Linked DNA regions of Homo sapiens: region 1 is linked to region 2. The links come from fine-mapping of genetic effects on gene expression. A gene starts in region 2. The other region holds a variant in brackets. All regions are shown on one strand. Distances are from middle to middle. Region 1 overlaps COL9A3 (collagen type IX alpha 3 chain). Region 2 holds the start of TCFL5 (transcription factor like 5).

Region 1 (8,568 bases), 40 kb after region 2:
AGAACAGGGGCCCAGAGCAAGGCCTGCGCCACAGTGGCGATGGCCAGAGCCAGGGTGCCGGCTGCTTCAGAGTGTCACTCACGGGGCCCATCTGAAGTCTGGAGGTGCAGACAACCAGGCCCCCAGCCACCTGGCCGGCCCCCACTAGGGGCTGCAGGACTTACCCGGTCCCCAGGGGGCCCGAGTGGCCCTGGCAGTCCTCGTAATCCCCGGGGGCCCTGCGAGAGAGAGGCACAGATGCAGAGGCTGGGGCTGCACCTCCACCCCGGGGAGCACCCAGGGCCAAGGCCCTCGGGGTACCCCTGGGAGCCCTGGTGTCTTCCATGAGCCCTCAGCCTCAGCTCAGGTCCCCCAGAGGGAGGGGGCACCAGCCTTGAGGTCAGCAGCCTTGGCAGAGGTGGGACCCCCAGCCAGGTCGCGCTCCTGTGCCTGGGTGTTGGCCAAACACCCCCCAGCCGGAGCTGGCCCCCTCGGGGGTAGATATGTGCAGGGCTTGATCACTCTGTGGGCTGAGTTCCCATCCCACCATCCTTACCCCTTCCTAGCCTCACCTGCAGCCCCACGCTGCCCGGGAGGCCGGCGGGCCCAGGGGGGCCAGGGTCACCCTGAAACAGAGGGGATAGGGTGGTCAGCGGCCCAGTCTGGCTCTCCTTGCACCTTTCGGTGCCTCCAGTCACCCTACTCAAGCCCAAGCAGCTGGGGGTGTTGCCCCCTTCACAGCTGGGCCTTGGAGGCTCTGTGAAGGGGACACTTGCCCACAGTTCCAGAGCAGTCCCGCGAGTCTCGGTGGCCTCGCCCTGCCGGGCCGGGGTCCGTGGTCACTGTTCCCACAAGGCCCTTCAGCCCTGTCCAGGCCCCTCCTCGTGGCCAAGCAGGGACCCCTCTGATGTGCACCTGGGGTCTCCTCATCTGATCACTCCAGCCACGCTAAAGGGCATCCCAGACCTGGTCCCCCGGCCTGCAGGTGACCATGGACAGACACCCTCCACGGACAGCGACCACAGGTGAGGGGAGGCTACAGGCTAAAGCCAGCCATCCTCACAGATGCCCCTCGCCCCGGCCACAGACACAAACCAGGGAGCTTCCACAGCGAGGCCAGGCAGGACGGGGTCTGTCCAGGGACCCTGCCTAAATCACCCAGCTCTGACCAGCCAGGCCCTGTCTGGAAGACAGGCACAGAAGGTGCCAGTGCAGGTGCACCCATGAAACGGTCCCTCCCCACCGCCGGAGCCCAGCCCCTCCCTCCCGCCGGAGCCCAGCCCCTCCCTCCCGCCGGAGCCCAGCCCCTCCCTCCCGCCGGAGCCCAGCCCCTCCCTCCCGCCGGAGCCCAGCCCCTCCCTCCCGCCGGAGCCCAGCCTCCAGTCCCCAGCTCCTCCCCAGCTGCTGTGCGGCAGCTTCACCTTCTCGCCGTCCTTGCCGACTTCCCCCTGCTCGCCTTTGTAGCCAGTGGGTCCCTGCAAGCAAATGTGGGGTCACTGCCCCACCCAGACCCCCCGACACCCCCTCCCTGGCAACACTGAAGTGAGGCCTGCAGGGTCAGTCAGCCCAGGGCCCGCCACACGGCAGCGCACAGGACCGCGGGTCTGGGCCCTCATGGGGAAACTGAGGCCTGAGAGGCGCTAGGACCCACATGAGGGCGCTCTGCGGTCAGGAGCGGGCCAGGGCTGGGCTGGGGTGGGAGCTTGAGGCTAGCTCTCCCCCGCAGTCTCTGACGCCTATGGCCAGTCCCAGCCTGGCCACATCAGCGTGTCACTGGGGTGCTGAAGGCGGGACAAGGAGGCTGGCCTAGCTTTCTTCCTGGGGCAACCCTGGAACCAGGGTCCAGCTTTCTGGACCCGCCACCTCCACAGCCCCATGGGAGCCCAGCTGCCTCCTGCCCAGCACAGGGTGGTGCTTGGGTCCCAGTCACCCGTGACTCACCTTGAACCCTGGCATTCCAGGGGGCCCTGGGGGACCTGGCGGGCAGATACTTGGGCACTGTCGGAAAACAGAGCAGTCAGACCCCTCCCAGCCAAACAGAGCAGGACGTCCGACGCAGGGGTCAGCGCCCGCGGGACCCCAGGAGGCCACTCTGCACGGTGACGGGACCCCGGGAGGCCACTCCTCATGGTGACAGGACCCCAGGAGGCCACTCCGCATCAGTGACGGGACCCCAGGAGGCCACTCCGCACAGATGATGGGACCCCAGGAGGCCACTCCACGTGGGTGACGGGGCCCCGGGAGGCCACTCCGCGCGGGTGTCGGGACACTCTGGGTGACAGGACCCCAGGAGGCCACTCCACACAGAGACGGGACCCCAGGAGGCCACTCCGCGTGGGTGACGGGGCCCCAGGAGGCCACTCCGCGCGGGTGTCGGGACACTCTGGGTGACAGGACCCCAGGAGGCCACTCCACACAGTGACGGGACCCCAGGAGGCCACTCCACACAGTGACGGGACCCCAGGAGGCCACTCCGTACAGGTGATGGCACTGGGACAGGACACAGACAGGGTCTCCTTCAGCACTGGCCAAGTGCAGCAGGGGCTGCATGGAGCAGCCGGCCCCACGGCAGACACTGGCTATCAAAGCAGCCATTCAGCACAGTCCCGGCCGGCACTGCAGGGGGCCTTGCAGCAGCCTCAGGTCGGGCCCATCCTCAGCACAGGAATGTGCTCGGCATGGGGCTTTTAGGAGGGGCACTGTGAGCCCAGGCAACAGGTCTGATGCTCAGGAAACCCAGGGCTGCTTCTAGATGATCCTACAGCTGCAATGGGCAGGCCAGGCCAAGGGTGCAGACCCGTATCTTCAGCCCCTGCCCCACTCAGCCCACGATCGGGGGCCCAACCACGCACCACATTCTGGAAGGTTCCCTAAAGCCTCCCTTCTGGGACACAGGCTGGCCAGGCACCTAGGCCCCGGGGTGGGGTGAGGAGAGAGGCTGGTAGACAGCGTCGGTGGTCAGGTCAGAGTGGGCCGAGCTTTTCCCTTCAAAACTATCAAACCTCTCTATGGAAACAAGGCGCTGACTGCCACCACGGACGGCCAAACAGAGAGGAGAGATGGATCCGTGGCCTCCGAAGCCCATTTTCTTTCCTCTTCATTTTTTTGAGACAGGCTTGAGCTTGGCTGCTCACGCTGGAGTGCAGTGGCTTGATCACAGCACCCTGCAACCACTGCCTCCTGGGCTCAAGTGATCCTCCCACCACAGCCATCCAAGTAGCTAGGACAACAGGCACGCCACCACGTCTGGCTACTTTAACAATTTTTTGTAGAGACAAAGATCTCACTATGTTGCCCAGGCTGGTCTCAAACTCCTGAGCTTAAGCGATCCTCCTGTCTGGGCCTCCCAAAGTGCTGGGATTACAGGCCTGAGCCACTGCGCCTGACCTGAGCCTGTTTTCTTTTCAGGCAAATGACAAGGCTCAAAGATCAAGATAAAGGTGGGTCCCAGACTCCAGTTCTGTCGCCATCTGTGGCCAAGGGCGCCCTCTGCGGATGACGCAGGGGAGCTGGATGGCTCTGTGACATGATTGTGATTCATTACATTTGTACAGCTCCATGCGCCTGGTGGCTTCATGAGGGACAGTGCAGGTCTAGACGGTGGTGAGGAGGGTGGGAAGGGGGAGGGGGAGGTCCCAGCCAGCCTCTCTGCCAGGTTGTGCCCGAGCTGTCTGCTCTGAGCTCCTGTCCCCAGGGAGGGCTCGGGCCCTGCCTTCTTGCCAGTATGGACAAGCCCCTCTCCAGGCCAGAACCCCTCCCCCCAAGGTAGGCACCCCCCAGCACCCTTAACAAATGGCTTCAAGTGCCTACCTGAAGGTCAGTAGCGCCTTCAGGGAGGACTCCTGGGTGTCCCTAAGACAAAAAGAGACAGCTGACATTCTCCCGCCCTCCCCAGCCACCTGCAGCCACCCAACCCACCCACCCACTCTCTGACGGACCACAACCTTCCCCATCCACCAGGGGACTTGGAGACCCTTCATCCTGTCCCCCAAGTGGCCAGTGCTGGGAGCTGCTGGCCCACCCACAGGGCATGTGACAACGACAGAATCCACCTGTCCTTGGGGCAGGATGGCCATGGGGACCTGAGTCCTGACCATCCCCAAGTTGGCTGGCCTAGCCACAGCCACTGCCCCCACCATTGACTGTTCCTGGGAGTGGCCAAGTTAGGGTTAGGAGATCTCGGAGGGGCATGGAGCCTGGGGAGGGGGAATGGGGAGGGTCCAACCCAGTGTCCTAGTCCATGCCCAGCACTTCTTAGAGCCTCTGCCCAGTACTTACAGGGGGTCCGGGAGGTCCTGGGGGACCAGGGAGGCCGGGGAGTCCAGAAGGTCCCTGGGGAGGGGGTATGACTTAGACAGAGTGGGACCAGCCCCCACCTGAGTGAGGTGCCCGGCTTCTCCCAGGGAGGTGGACACGCCCAGCTCCCACCAGCCCCCACTCCCACGGACTGTGCTGGTGTCTGCGTCCTGAGGTCGGGTCTGGATCATTGGCCAGGGCTTCTACCAACACCCACCAAGGTGGGGTTGGGGGAGAAAGGGAAAAGGGAGAGGGGAAGGGAGCCCCTGGCTGTTGAGTCTGGGGGTGGAGGCCACAGGTGAGCACACTCTGAGGGGCTCTGGGACAGCCACTCACCGGGGGGCCGCGGAGGCCGATCCCACCTGGGGGGCCGCTCACTCCTGCCTCTCCCTGGAGGGAAGTAAAGAGAGGTGGGGAGGTCTGCACCCGGAAGCCCCGAGGATCCCCACCCAGGGTTGGTGTGCCGCCTCCGAAGGGAGAGGGGCTCCAAGTATGGGGTGGTCAGATGGCTGCCCCTGAGAAGCCCCACCCCCAGGCACGGTTTGGGACATCCCAGCCTGGCAGGCTCTCGGGACTTGCGTGCTTGCTCAGGGCCCCAAGGGTTGTCAGTACTCACGGGGGGTCCAGGGAGGCCTTTGCCCTGCAAAGCCAAACATGGGGTCAGAGCCTGCCAGGCACAAGAAGGGCTGCGCCTCACCCCTCCCTAAGATGGCTCAGGTGGGTCCTGGGGAAAGGGCGGTTCCAGGGATGGGTGTCTGGTCCCAGCCCAGAGAGGGCACCAGGACCCCATCCAGGCACCAGCCTCCGGAGAGGCTGCAGATGAGAGGGCCAGGGATGGTCCCTGGGATTCCTGGAGGCCACCCCATTTAGACCAGACTCTCCAGCTCCCCAAACTCCCATGGAGAGGAGAGGACCACACTCCATACTCACCCCCAGCCCGGGCGGCCCCGGGGGTCCCAGACTTCCCTGTGGGAGGAAAGCAGGCGTCTAGGTTGGGCTGGGCCTCTATTTGCAAACCCAATCCCCTCCCTCTGAAGTGTGACGTCACAACTCCAACTCCCAGGACAACAGGGTCCAAGTCCCCACTTCACAGAGGGGCAGGGCCTCTGAGCCCTCTTGACCTGGAGGGTCTTTGCCGTCCTGGGGAGCTGCTGGAGACAGATGGCACCAGAGTCCCAGCGCTCGCTGCAAGAAGGTGCAACCTGAGGCAGGGCTGAGAGGCACCGAAGTGACCC[G/C]GGGTGCCTGTCTCCACCAGGAAGCCCTCCCGATAACCCACCCACGGAGCCTGCTGAGTCCTCAGCCCCCGCCCACGTCAGCGAGCCCCAGAGCCTTGGGCAGCCAGGCCCTGTCTGCCCTCCACACCCTCTGGGCCCTGTCTGGCCCCTGCTGCCTGAAATGCCTCATTCCCTGGACGGCACGCACGGGCCCTGTGCTGAGGCTGGAGGCCCCTCCTGAAAGCCTGGGGACCAGCCCACCCCACACCCCTGGGCACCACGGACTCGGCTGCCAGCAGCTACTGTTTCCCTCCTGTTTTCAGCTCAGAATCCGCCTCATGCCTGACGAGCTCCCAAGGGTCCCAAGGGCAGGGCTGTGTCCTCGTGTCCCCAGCCCAGCCTTCCTGCCCTCTGTGATGCTTTGCGCCTGGGGCCAGTGGCACCCGGTTGGCTGACAGCCACGTCTTATGAAGCCAAAGAGAGAATGCTGGCTTCGGGTTTGTACTCAGAAGCCACAAGGGGAGAAAGGCACCCTTGGGTGGTGGTGCCGCTCCGTCAGGGTAAAGGATTCAGTGTCCAACAGGCAGGCACAGGGGACTCTGCAGGCTGCGTGCCCGGGGGTCCCTGGTGGTGGTCTGCCCAGGGCCCTGGGGGCTTCAGGGACATTCTGAGGAGGCACCTGGGGTGGGTTCCCCCAAACCATCCCCCTTCTCCCTGCCATGGTCTGGATACCAGGACAACTCTGACCATACGTGGAGGTGAGGCAGGGAGGCAGGCACAGGGGACTGGCCACTTGGCACCCTGCCCTTCTGCCCCTCCACCCCAGGCACGGGCAGGGCAGCTGTCCTTGGAACTACCAGCTCCTTGGCCTTGTGGACACAGAGCAGCCAGAGGTGGCCAGGGGACCTCACCTCTGAACCCAAGCCACTGGGTTCGGCGCAGGCACTTACCCGTTCCCCAGGGGCACCCTTGGGTCCAGGGGGTCCATCTCGTCCAGTCAGACCCTGGGGAGAGGCAGAGGGCGAGCTCGAGGGGCCACATGGGAAGCACATGCCACCCCCCAGGCAAAAATGGAAGCACGGACCCTTCCCTTGGTGAGTCCAGAGAGGCATAGAAGACCCTTAGGGTGGCAGCCTCCTCTCTTGGCCCTGTCCACTGTCTGCCTGCTGTAGCCAGAGGCTCTGGGAGGAGGGAGGGGGCAGCCAGCGGGAAGCCAGCAACGGAGGCACCTGCTGTAGTCAGGCCTCGGGGACCAACCCAGCAGGACTGGACAGCTCACTTCTCAGGCCCGGCTTCCTCCGAACAAAACTCCGTGGCCCTGGGGCCAGGCCTGGAGCCCAAGATGACTAAGTGAGGCCAGCAGTGGGCAGAAGGTCCTGACAATGGGCACTCATTCCTGGACAAGCAAGGAGGGCTGGCGGGACTTCCGACTCCACTGGGCTGGCTCTGTCCCCTGCCAGATGCTGGTGGCGTCTGGGATGAAGGCCAAAGGACCCCTGTTGGGGACTTCTGGAGACTTCTCTCAGGACTGGGCTTCCCGCCTGAGCAGGCCCAGCTGGACAACAGCAATTAGGGCCGGACTCCTCCAGGGACCCGGAGCGGGGAGTGGGGCATGGCGGGGAGGGGCAGGCGCACTCACATCCACACCCGGCAGTCCCGGCAGCCCAGCCTCTCCTGGTTTCCCCGGCTTTCCTGGGGCCCCCTTTGGTCCCTGTGCAGGAGGAAAGGGCAGAGATGTGAAGGCGGGGTCTGGCCTGGAGCCCAGGCCTTCAGCAATGAAGCAAAATGCTTTCCACTTCCCCCCAGCCCAACCATACGGGATGGGCCCCTCTCCTGGGTCCCCCCTACTGTCTGGCAGACCCGGCTCAGCTGGGGCACGTGTGTCCTGCTTGCCCACACCTTGCTGGCCCAGGAAGGCTGCCCGCCCCATCCCTCAGTGGCATCTGTAAGACCTTCGTCTGGTCACCTCGGCCTCCCTGGCTAAGGGCCAGCAGGCATCTCTGTCGGACCCCCAGTGGGCCCAGACAGGGCTCTGAGCCCCAGGACCCTCAACCCCTGGAACTGAAGAAGGTGGGAGGGCTCCAGGTGACCTCAGGCCTGGGGGACCTGAAGGGCTGTACCAGCCCCGGTCCCGGCCTGCCTGGCGCTGGTCCAAAGAAAGCTTCAAAGCCAGGCCCTGCCCTGAACATGCAGAGGCTGAGCCCACACACTCCCCTCCCGCCCCGCTGGCTCCAGGCCTGCTCCAAGCCCTCTGAGGCCTCCCCTCAGGCAACCCGGGCTCCGGCAGGATGAGACAGGATATCAATGACCCCTCTGTTCTGAGTTCCCCCTTTCTCTCCAGACTGGAAAAAGGCTGTCTCCCCAGCCAGGGACACTCACCGGGGGCCCAGGCAGACCTGGAGGACCAGCTTCTCCCTGTGAGGAAAGACACCCACATGTAACCCTGAAAATCAGGGGTCCCTCAAGAACCCCGCCTCGGGGAAAAGAGCAGCGCTGGCCTCCAAATCAGCCCCAGAGGCCCAGCCCCAGCAGACAAAAGGGGCCCCTGAGCCCCCGATCCCTACCTAGAGGGCACCCTCCCATGTGTGGGGCAGCACTGGGCAAAGGGGTGAACTGGACAGACTGGAAGGAGGCTGTGGCCATTGAGGCCGAGCTGGGCAGGGGGGCAGAGGGTGGGTCATGGGGGGCTCTTGGTGCAGCCCTCCACAGCCCTCCACGGGGACCACACAGCGTGGACAGGCCCTGAGGGGACTCCTGCCCTGGTGGTGGTCACATGGGGAGGTTCACCCCAGACGGTCCCTCCGAGGGAGGCACAATTGTAGAATTTCAGCCGCCTCCTCCTGCTGCTTGGCCCACACCAGTCCTGAGATACCCATAGGGGACATCATCTCAGGACTGAGTCGGCTCCTAAGCCCCCTCCATGGCTGGCTCCAGAGCCCAGCAGCCTCCAACAAGACCCCCGGCCCCCAACCACCCAAAGGACGTGCCTCTCCCCACTTCAGCCAGAGGCCAGAACCCCGAACACAGGGGCACGGGCCCCTCAGGGGACCCAGAGACACACACCTCAGTGCCGGCATTC
Region 2 (11,273 bases):
CTTTTCTAAGTATTTCTTTAGCTATATTCCATGAATTTTGATGTTGTCGTTTTCATTTTTGCTCATTTCTAAATACTTTATAACTTCCCTTTTGATTTCTTTGACCCGTGAGACATTTAGAAATGTATTATTTAGTTGCCAAATGTTCGGAGATTTACAATATCTCAAATATCTTTACATTAGATTTGAAATTAAATTCAGTCGTGGTTGAGGACATATTTTTCTAAAGTTTAAATTTATTGAGACATATTTTATGGTCCAAATTATGGTTTATCTTGGTAGATGTTACCTATCCAGTTGAAAAGACTGTATTCTGATGTGGGTGGTTGGGGTGTTCTATAAACATCAACTAGAGCAAGTTGGTTGATGGCATTGTCCAGGTCTTCTGCATCCTTTCTGATTTTCTGTCTTTCTCCTCTCTCTCTTTCTTTTGAGACGGAGTCTCACTCTGTCACCCAGGCTGGAGTGCAATGGCACAATCTCTGCTCACTGTAACCTCTGCCTCCCGGGTTCAAGAGATTCTCTTGCCTCAGGCTCCCGAGTAGCTAGGATTACAGGCATGCGCCACCATGCCCAGCTAATTTTTTTTTTTTTTTTTTTTTTTTTTAGGTAGAGACGGGGTTTCTCCGTGTTGGTCAGGCTGATCTCGGACTCCTGACCTCAGGTGATCCACCTGCCTCAGCCTCCCAAAGTGCTGGGATTACAGGCGTGAGCCACCGTGCCCAGAATTTTTTTTTTTTTTGTGAGATGGAGTCTTCCTCTGTCGCCCAGGCTGGAGTGCAGTGGCACAATCTCAGCTCACTGCAACCTCCATTTCTCTGGTTCAAGCAATTCCCCTGCTTCAGCCTCCCGAGTCGCTGGATTACAGGTTCACGCCACCACGCCCGGCTAATTTTTTTGTATTTTTAGTAGAGATGGGGTTTCACTATGTTGGCCAGACTGGTCTCCAACTCCTGACCTTGTGATCTGCCCGCCTTGGCCTCCCAAAGTGCTGGGATTATAGGTGTGAGCCACTGCGCCCGGCCTGCTCCATGGTTTGTTTTGTTTTGTTTTGTTATTTTTTATTTATTATTTTTTTGAGACAGGGTTTCGCTCTGTTGCCCAGGCTGGAGTTCAGTGGCACAATATCAGTTCACTGCAACCTCTGCCTCCCAAGTTCAAGTGATTCTCCTGCCTCAGCCTGCCAAGTAGCTGGGATTACAGGCGCACACCACCATGCCCAGCCAATTTTTGTATTTTTAGTAAAGATGGGGTTTTGCCATGTTAGCCAGGCTGGTCTCGAACTCCTGACATCAAGTGATCCGCTCGCCTCGGCCTCCCAAAGTGCTGGGATCACAGGTGTGAGCCACTGCACCCGGCCCTGCTCCATGTATTTTTAAGCTTTCTAATTAGATGCATTTAATCAGGAAAATGTTCTGCCCCCTATTTCACTATGAAATGACCAGAATCGCTGGCAAAATTCTTGGCTCTGAAATCTACTTTAGTATTTGTTTTCTTCTTTTTCTTCAGACCCGCCTCCTGGAAATTGACTTTAGTGTTTATATGCCTATTCCAGCTGCCTTTCGACAGCGCTAGGGAGGTGCGCACTTTCCATCCTTTCTCTTTAAAATGAGTTTCTTACGGGCACTCCAAGGTCTGACTTACAGAGTCTCACTCTGTCGCCCAGGCTGGAGTGCAGAGCTGGGACCTCAGCTCACTGCAAGGTCCGCCTCCCAGGTTCGCGCCATTCTCCTGCCTCAGCCTCCCGAGTACCTGGGACTACAGGTGCCCGCCCCCACGCCTGGCTAATTTTTTGTATTTTTCAGTAGAGACGGGGTTTCACCGTGTTAGCCAGGATGGTCTTGATCTCCTGACCTTGTGATCCGCCCGCCTCGGCCTCCCAGAGTGCTGGGATTACAGGCGTGAGCCACCGCGCCCGGCCTCCAAGTTCTGACTTTTTATCCATTCTGGTCTCTGCTTTCTCATTGACGTGTTTAAACCTTTTACATCTCATGTGATTTTTTTTTATTGGATTTAAATCTACTATCTTGCTATTTATTCTCTATTTGTCCCGTGTGCTCTTTGTTCTATTTTTCTTTTTTCTGCCTCTTGCATTTTTAATTTTTGTATCATTTATTTATTTACTTTAGAGGTGAGGTCTGTCATTCAGGCTGGTGTGCAGTGGCACAATCATATCTCACTTTCTGCCCCTTTGAGAGTCTGATTCCATTTTCTCTCCTTTATTGATTTATTAGCCATCACCCTTTGTTGCTGTATTGCAGTGGTTGTGGTAAGGCTCGTAATAAATAGCTTTAACCCGTCCAGTCTCTTCATTCTTCTGTGGAGACCCCGACTTCTATCCAGTCTCACCTTCCTTTTGTCTGAAGGACTTCTGGAACATGTCTTGTACTGCAAGTCTGCTAGTGATGGATTATTTTAGCTTTTGTAAGTGCAAAAAAGTCTTTATTTTGCCTTTGTTTTTGAAAAATATCTTTGCTGGGCATAGAACTACAGTTATTCCTCAGTATCCCTGGGGGATTGGTTCCAGTACCTGCCATGGGTACCAAAATCCACGAATGTTCAAGTCCCTTATGCAAAATGTCATAGTGTTTCCATATAACCTATGCACATTCTTCCATACACTTTAAATCATCTGTAGCGGCGAGCGTGATGACTCACACCTGTAATCTCTGTAATTTGGTAGGCTGAGGTGGGAGGATCACTTGAGGCCAGGAGTTCAAGACCAGCCTGGGCAACATAGTAAGATACCATCTCTACAAAAAATAAAATAAAATAAAAATTAGCAGGGCATGGTGGTGTGTGCCTGTGGTCCCAGCTACTCGGCAGAGTCATGCAGGAGGATTGGTTGAGCTCAGGAGGTCGAGGCTGCAGTGAGCTATAACCGTATTATCCTACTCCAGCCTGGGAGACAGAGCGAGACCCTGTTTCTAAAATATATACATATCGAGATTACTTATAATACCTCATGCGATGTACATGCTAAATGAATACTTGTTATACCATATTGTTTAAGGAATAATGACAAGGAAGAGCAGTCTGTGCATTTCGGTGCAAGTAATTTTTTTCTGAGTATTTTTGATCCTTGGTTGAATCCACAGACGCAGAGCCTGTGAATACAGACGCCTGACACTATCAGTCAGCTTCTCCCTTGCCCTCAGCACTTCAAAGGTGTGATTCCACTCTGTTCTGACTTGCATTATTCCTGAAGAAATGTCTGCAATCACTGCAATCTTTTCATTTATTTTTTTAGAAGGAGTCTCTCGCTCTGTCACTAGGCTGGAGGGCAGTGGCGTGATCTTGGCTCACTGCAACCTCCACCTCCCAGGTTCAAGCGGTTCTCGTGCCTCAGCCTCCTGAGTTACCTGGGATTACAGGCCTGTGCCACCACACCCAGCTATTTTTTTTTATTTTTAGTAGAGATGGGATTTCACCATGTTTACCAGGATGGACTCGATCTCCTGACCTTGTGATCCGCCCGCCTCAGCCTCCCAAAGTGCTGGGATTACAGGCGTGAGCCACCGCGCCTGGCCTGTAATCATTCTTATCTTTGTTCCTCTGTACACAATGTCTTGTGTGTGTGTGTGTGTGTGTGTACAGCTGCTTTTAAGATTTTTCACTGATTTAAAGCAATTTGAGGCCAGGCACGGTGGCTTATGCCTGTAATCCCAGCATTCGGGAGACCAAGGTGGGCAGATCACCTGAAGTCAGGAGTTCAAGACCAGCCTGACCAACATGGCAAAATCCCGTCTCTACTAAAAATACAAAAAATTGGCCAGGCATGGTGGCACATGCCTATAATCCCAGCTATTCAGGAGGCTGAGGCAGGAGAATCACTTGAATCCAGGAGGCAGAGGTTGTGCTGAGTCAAGATCGTGCCATTGCACTCCAGCCTGGGAGACAGAGCAAGACTCCATCTCAAAAAATAAAAAAATAAATAAATAAAGCAATTTGCTTTCCATCTTGGTGTAGTTTCCTTCATGTTTCTTGAGTTTGAGGTATGTTAAACTTCTTGGGTCTGTAGGTTTGTAGTTTTAAAAAAACTTTTCAATCATTATTTTTTTTTGTTGTTTTGTTTTTGTTTTTTGAGACAGCGTCTTGCTCTGTCTCCCAGGCTGGAGTGCAGTGGTGCAATCTCTACTCACTGAAACCTCCACCTCCCGGGTTCCAGCGATTCTTCTGCCTCAGCTTCCTGAGTAGCTGGGATTACAGGCACATGCCACCACACCTGGCTAATTTTTTATATTTTTAGTAGACACGAGATTTCATCATGTTGGCCAAGCTGATCTCGAACTCCTGACCTCAAGGGATCTGCCCGCCTCGGCCTCCCAAAGTGCTGGGATTACAGGCGTGAGCCACCTCACCTGGCAATCATTACTTCTTAAAATGTCTTTCTCCCCATCCTTCCACCCCCAGGGGACTTCAAATCACACTGCTTGAAGCGGCCCCACAGCTCACTGATGCTCTGCTCACTCTCTTAGCCTTCCCTCTCTGTTTTACGTTAGACGACTTCTGTTGCCATGTCCTTGAGAGTTTTAAGTCCTTGCTTTCCTCCTTGGTAGTGTTTTCTGAAACCTGATGTTTTGCCCAAAACTGATATATTATTTTCATGTATACATGTGTGAGTTTAGATTTGCATGGCTGAGCTTTCATAGCCCATCGTTGAATCATTGTAATATATTGGTCTGTGTCTAAACTGTGATGAAATGAGCGAAAGATTCAGACCCGGCTTAGAAGACGATGTGCAAGTCACAGGCCTTTAAGTGTCCTAATGCCTAGACAGAGAACAGACAACCACTGAGTGAGATGGGAATGTGGGTGAGAGGTTAAGTACAGGAATTATTTCAAGATTGCAAAAATAAGTCTCTTAAAGACCACATATTGCATAGTTCCCTTAACAGGGAAGGCCCAGCCTAGGCAAACTCCTGGACACAGAAGATTAGTGGCTGCAGGCGGGGGAGGGGCAGTGTGCTGACTGCTACAGGAGACCGGTGGTGAATGCAGCGGTGGAGGCGGGCCCAGCGCTGGGAATGTACCACCACCGTCGCGCTGTGCATTTTTTTTTTTTTTTTGAGATGAAGTCTGGCTCTGTTGCCCAGGCTGGAGTGCAGTGGCAAGATCTCGACTCACTGCAACCTCCGCCTCCCGGGTTCAAGCGATTCTCCTGCCTCAGCCTCCCGAGTAGCTGGGATTACAGGCACGCACTACCACGTCCAGCTAATTTTTGTATTTTTAGTAGAGACGGGGTTTCACCATGTTGGCCAGGCTGGTCTCGATCTCCTGACCTCCTGATCCACCTGCCTCGGCCTCCCAAAGTACTGGGATTACAGGCATGAGCCACAGAACCCGGCCATGCGCTGCGCATTTTACGCGGATGAAGCGGATGGCCTGGGCACTGTGGACTGTGGGTCCAGGGAGCTGTTTTGACAACGTCTTCATTCCTGCCGCTGTAATGGGGCGCACGTGCACGCACGGACGTGGCTTCTCCCCAGGGTGTCACCGCGTAGGTATCACGCTGATTCCAGCGCAGCCGCCCTCGCCGGGCCTCAGCGGGGAGTGGCCGGGCAGCAGGGGCGTGGCTGGGAACCGGGCGTGGCCTGAGCTGGGGGCGTGGCCTAGCTGTGGGGGCGTGGCTGGGCCGTGGGGGCGGGCCCTCCGCGCAAGCATCCGCCGACGTGGGGCGGGGCCGGGCGTGCGGGCGGTTGGGCGGGGGCGGGGCCGGCGGCGGCGGGTAACGGAGGGGGCGGGGCTGGCGCAGGGGTGGGGTTGCCGTTGCGGGGCGGGGCGGCGCAGGCGCTGTGCGCGGCACTCAGCGGTTTTCCCTCCCCCAACGGCGCGCCGGCTGTGGCCGGCGCAGAGTAGTGCTCGGGCCGGGGGTCGCCTCCCGCCTCCCGCCTCCCGCCTCCCGCCGCCCGCCGCCCGCGTCGCCCTCGCCGCCGTTGGGCCGCGCCGCGCCGCCATGTCGGGCCCCGGACCGCGGGAGCCGCCGCCGGAGGCAGGCGCGGCAGGCGGCGAGGCGGCCGTCGAGGGCGCGGGCGGCGGGGACGCGGCGCTGGGCGAGCCGGGGCTGAGCTTCACGACCACCGACCTGAGCCTGGTGGAGATGACGGAGGTGGAGTACACGCAGCTGCAGCACATCCTCTGCTCGCACATGGAGGCGGCGGCTGACGGCGAGCTCGAGACGCGCCTCAACTCGGCGCTGCTGGCGGCGGCGGGCCCGGGCGCAGGCGCGGGCGGCTTCGCGGCGGGCGGTCAGGGGGGCGCGGCGCCCGTGTACCCCGTGCTGTGCCCGTCCGCGCTGGCGGCCGACGCGCCCTGCCTGGGCCACATCGACTTCCAGGAGCTGCGCATGATGCTGCTAAGCGAGGCGGGCGCGGCGGAGAAGACGTCGGGCGGCGGGGACGGAGCGAGGGCCCGGGCCGACGGCGCCGCCAAGGAGGGCGCGGGCGCGGCTGCGGCTGCGGCTGGACCCGACGGCGCGCCCGAGGCCCGGGCCAAGCCGGCCGTGCGCGTCCGCCTGGAGGACCGCTTCAACAGCATCCCCGCCGAGCCGCCGCCCGCGCCGCGCGGCCCCGAGCCCCCCGAGCCGGGCGGGGCGCTCAACAAGTGCGTGCCCGGCGGCCGGGGGCTGGCGGGGCCCGGGTGGAGGCCGAGGCCGGGGCCGGGGCCGGGGCGGAGGCAAAGGGGGCCCTCGCTGTGCACGCCCCCAGCCTGCCCTCCCGGCGGCACAGGGCGCGGACCTCACCGGGTCTGGGGCCGCCCCGAAAGGCTGTGTGCGCTGTGCGGGCCCCGGGGAGCAGGTACTTCCAGAAACTAAACACCCCCTCCCTCAGTGGCCCCGCCTGGAGTGGGGCCGAGCGCGCAGAATTCCTGGGAACCATGTGCTCCGGGTGGCACTCTTGGATGTCAGGGAAGCCTAGGAAGGCCCGACGGGGGTTTGCAGGCTTTGAGCTCTAAAATGAGGCTCCAGCCTGCAGCCGCCCCCTTGGCGACCCTCAGGGATGGCTGTGGAAGGGGCTGCGTCCGCAGTTTTCTGCTCATCCCAGCCTGTAGTTGCCCATCGTGGTCACACTGGAGGATGGCAAAAGTGAGATTGGTGTCAGGATGTGATGAGAGCAGGGAGGTGGCGCAGTTTTGCTTTTCCTCCATAGGAAGAGGAGGACTTCCACAGCAGCGATAGTTGCTAATTGTTGTGTAGAGATTTCCAGGATGAGAGTTGGGTTGCTGTCTGGAAAAACTAGCCAGAGCCATGGGAGTGGGATGGTGGATGCTTGTCTGCCACGTATTGCTGACACTTCTGGGCTTTCTTTTGTCTTGGCAGTTTGGTAACTCTCATTCGACATCCATCTGAACTAATGAATGTTCCTCTTCAGCAACAAAACAAATGTACAGCATTAGTGAAAAATAAAACTGCGGCTACAACTACTGCTTTGCAATTTACATACCCACTGTTTACTACAAATGCTTGCTCTACTAGTGGAAATTCTAATCTTTCACAGACACAGGTAGGGAACATGATTTGTGAAGCTTTGCTCTTTTGTATTAAATGGGTAAATTTTAACTTATTTTGGTTAGGTCCCAAGTACTTTTTTTTCCCTTCAGTGAGCTTAATAACCTTTTAAGCCGGGCGCCAAGGCCGACACCTGTAATCCCAGCACTTTGGGAGGCCGAGGTGGGTGGGTCATTTGAGTTCAGGAGTTCAAGACTAGCCTGGCCAACATGGTGAAACCCCGTACGAAAATTAACCAGGTGGTAGTGGCGGACACCTGTAATCCCAGCTGCTCAGGAGGCTGAGGCGGGAGAATCGCTTGAGCCTGGGAGGTGGAGGTTGTGGTGGGCTGACATCGCGACCCTGCACTCCAGTCTGGGCGACAGAGTGAGAGCCTGTCTCAAAAAAAAAAACAAAAAAACAAAAACAAAAAAATACCTGTGAAAGTTGAGTGTTTATGTGGTATGCGAATATTTTTAAATCTTCAGTGCAACTAAAGTTCTTCAAATTACGTGTTAGTAGTTTTGATGTTTGTTAAGTGCATTTCATTTGTGCAGTAAAGAGGAGAGTAAGCCACATATTGATAAAATTCCTGTTGCTTCATTTTTTTCCAGAGTTCTAGTAACTCATGTTCTGTACTTGAAGCTGCCAAGCACCAGGATATTGGATTGCCTAGAGCATTTTCTTTCTGTTATCAGCAAGAAATTGAATCCACTAAACAGACGTTAGGTAGTAGAAACAAAGTTTTGCCTGAGCAAGTTTGGATTAAAGTGGGAGGTAAGCGATGAAGCAGCAGGTAGTGGGAGCTTTCTTCTGACTGAGCCCTGTGGCTGATGGCATTTTGGCCTTGGGGGGCAGGGGAGACAGATGGTTTGTACACATGTGAAACAGTCTTGGAGGTGTCTGTGTATCTCAGGGGTCTGTCCACCCGCTTCCCTGTCTTTTCGCTTTAAACATTATTCTGATTCTCAAACATAATTAATCTTGGTGTGAGAACGTTGCGTTTGAGGGCTTTTTCTTAACAGTAAAGTGATAGACTTACATAAATTTTCAGTTATTTTCAAGTTACTGAAAGTACTTTATAGTTTTTTATTTTCCTTATGTTATACTCGATGAGTGAGGCAGTCATCTAACATCTGCCGAAAGCCTTTGGATAGGTGGCTGCTAATAGGAGGACCCTATTAGGGCTGCCAGGGAGAGGCTGTAAGGTGATTCGGAAAGTTTGGAAATAAAGTCACTGCTGAAGGCACTGCTGCGCTAACCTGCATAGTCCCTTCCTCCCTGGGAAACACCTGCGTAGCCCCTTCCTCCCTGGGAAACACCTGCGTAGCCCCTTCCTCCCTGGGAAACACCTGCGTAGCCCCTTCCTCCCTGGGAAACACCTGCGTAGCCCCTTCCTCCCTGGGAAACACCTGCGTAGCCCCTTCCTCCCTGGGAAACACCTGCGTAGCCCCTTCCTCCCTGGGAAACACCTGCATAGCCCCTTCCTCCCTGGGAAACACCTGCGTAGCCCCTTCCTCCCTGGGAAACTGATTTGTGAAGTGACCCGAAAAAAGAACACTCCTTACACTTAGCTTTCCAAGAGTTGGTGAAGACAAGATGGGGAGGAAGAGCTACCGCCTTCTCCCATGTCAGTCCTTCCTTTTCCTCCCTATAAAATTTTATGCCAAAGTATATGTTCACATTTGTAAGATACAAAGATGAGTATTAAAGCAGCCTCTGTGCCGACTACTCAGGTTAAGGAATAAAATATCACCAAAACGACCGAATTCCTCTCTCTCCTGCTGAAAGCTTCATCATCCTTCTGAAATGGGTGCTTTGTGTGGCATACGCGTGCACATGAGCACGCCTGCCAGTCACGTGCCTGTGGTCCTTTGATGGATACAGTTCCACTGACGCACACGTGGCATAGCCTGTCACGCAGCAGAAAAGCTCGGACGCTACTTCTTCCTGCTTTGGGGAGGAGAGCCACTTCTGCGGCGAGGGCACACACACACGCTGCTGCAGTTTTGTTCTGAGCATTGCAGTAAAAATACTGTCATATTAGAATAATTGTTTTTTTTTCTTGTTCTTAGAATAATTGTATATAAAGAAAATATTTTTGGGAGGAAATATGTCCAGGTGGTTTGTTGTTGTTGTTTTTTTTTTTCCATTCTGACCTTTAGAAAAAGTAAACAACTTCTTGTTTTCTGTATTCATAGATAACACCTGTTAATTAAAAAGAGGGGCTTTGGATGAGGTCATATTGGTTGCATAGCACTTGGAAAACGTATTTAGTGTGATGATTGATTCTTGTTCAGTTTCGTTGTATAAAATAGGCTTGGGCTTCATGGTCCCTGCTGATGCTGAAAAACTGCATTAGTACATCTCTTTGTGTTTCGGTTCTCTGTGCTGCTTACCCAATAATGTTTATATCTTGGATTGAAAAGGCCAAAACTGTATTCAGCATTAATTGAGATAAGAATACAAAATTAAAAACCACTTTTTTCTTCTTTCGCAAAGAAGCAGCGCTATGCAAACAAGCACTGAAGAGGAATCGGAGTAGAATGCGTCAGTTGGACACAAATGTAGAGCGAAGAGCCCTTGGAGAGATTCAGAATGTGGGCGAAGGTGCCACCGCCACACAAGGCGCTTGGCAGTCCTCGGAGTCCTCACAGGCAAACCTGGGGGAGCAGGCCCAGAGTGGGCCCCAGGGAGGAAGGTCTCAACGTAGGGAGAGGCATAACCGAATGGAAAGAGATAGAAGGTAATACGTGTGACTGCTTGTCAGGCTGACTCATATATGATTACCTTAGTCATACATGGTTATCACAGATGAGTGATCCTTAGCCGTTTCTGCGTTCAGAGGGAATAAAGCAGGTAGGAGCATCGTTAGCTTTCCCAGATGGATCAAGGATCCCCCAGACTATGCCCAGGCTCGCTGGCTCACTAGGAGGACTCCCGGGACTCCGCATGCAGTCACTCTCAGGCTGTGACTTACTATGGAGAAAGGATGCCAGGTGCGATCAGCAAAGGCGCGTGGGGAGAAGGCAGGAGCTGAGGTGCAAGCTTCTAAGAGCGCGCCCTGTGGAGTCAGGCAGGTTGCCCCTCATGCCCCCAGCCATGTGGTCTGAAAACGTGGGTGAGGTGTTGCCAACCAGGAAAGCTCGCTAGAGACCAGGGGCGTGTCACGTAGGCACTGCCCCCATGCATGCAACCACAGTCCAGTCTCCCAGAAGGAAAGCAGTTGTTCAGTGTCAGCCATATCGTTTGCACAGTGTAGGTTCTGGGGGCACTCTTAACTCCCTGAATCTAGGTTTGCAGACTCCACTAAGGGCCAGCCCTGACTGCAGGCCTTTCTGAGGAGAGTGGTCAGGCTGTTTTGGTAACTGCTGCTTACCAGCCAGCTTGAGTTCAGCAAGTTTTGCCTGGTTCTTTTTTTTTTTTTTTTTTTTTGAGACGGAGTCTTGCTCTGTCGCCCAGGCTGGAGTGCAGTGGCGCGATCTCTGCTCACTGGAAGCTCCGCCTCCCGGGTTCATGCCGTTCTCCTGCCTCAGCCTCCTGAGTAGCTGGGACTACAGGCGCCTGCCACCACACCTGGCTAATTTTTTTGTATTTTTTAGTAGAGACGGGGTTTCAGCATGTTAGCCAGGATGGTCTTGATCTCCTGACCTCGTGATCTGCCCGCCTCGGCCTCCCAAAGTGCTGGGATTACAGGTGTGAGCCACCGCTCCTGGCTATTGCCTGGTTCTTTTAAGATTGCTGGGAAGGAAGAGGTTAAAATTGTTATTTAAGTGGTTTTGTCTGT

Evidence for each region.
Region 1: its variant is fine-mapped to the expression of TCFL5 in monocytes (TOPMed, PIP above 0.99).

Annotation. Positions count from the first base shown.
Region 1 is chr20:62,817,854-62,826,421 of GRCh38, reverse strand. It overlaps COL9A3 (collagen type IX alpha 3 chain), which reads right to left. Exons shown (of 32, transcript NM_001853.4): 3 at 7,869-7,904; 4 at 7,129-7,200; 5 at 6,440-6,493; 6 at 5,206-5,241; 7 at 4,892-4,915; 8 at 4,612-4,665; 9 at 4,258-4,311; 10 at 3,790-3,831; 11 at 1,921-1,977; 12 at 1,401-1,454; 13 at 552-605; 14 at 165-218. Among named protein-coding and RNA genes, the nearest start is that of COL9A3, 5.1 kb to the right of the region's middle. RefSeq lists a silencer at 1,164-1,223 and enhancers at 1,812-2,499, 2,500-3,188, 7,070-7,757, 7,758-8,443. The variant G/C (reference allele first, on the strand shown) is at 5,511.
Region 2 is chr20:62,856,354-62,867,626 of GRCh38, reverse strand. TCFL5 (transcription factor like 5) reads left to right here and starts at 5,805. Exons shown (of 6, transcript NM_006602.4): 1 at 5,805-6,603; 2 at 7,319-7,502; 3 at 8,101-8,263; 4 at 9,989-10,232. The coding sequence starts at 5,957. LOC105372717 (a long non-coding RNA gene) reads right to left here and starts at 6,192. Exons shown (of 4, transcript XR_936989.4): 1 at 6,086-6,192. RefSeq lists silencers at 5,397-5,496, 5,547-5,736, 6,237-6,386 and an enhancer at 5,358-6,012.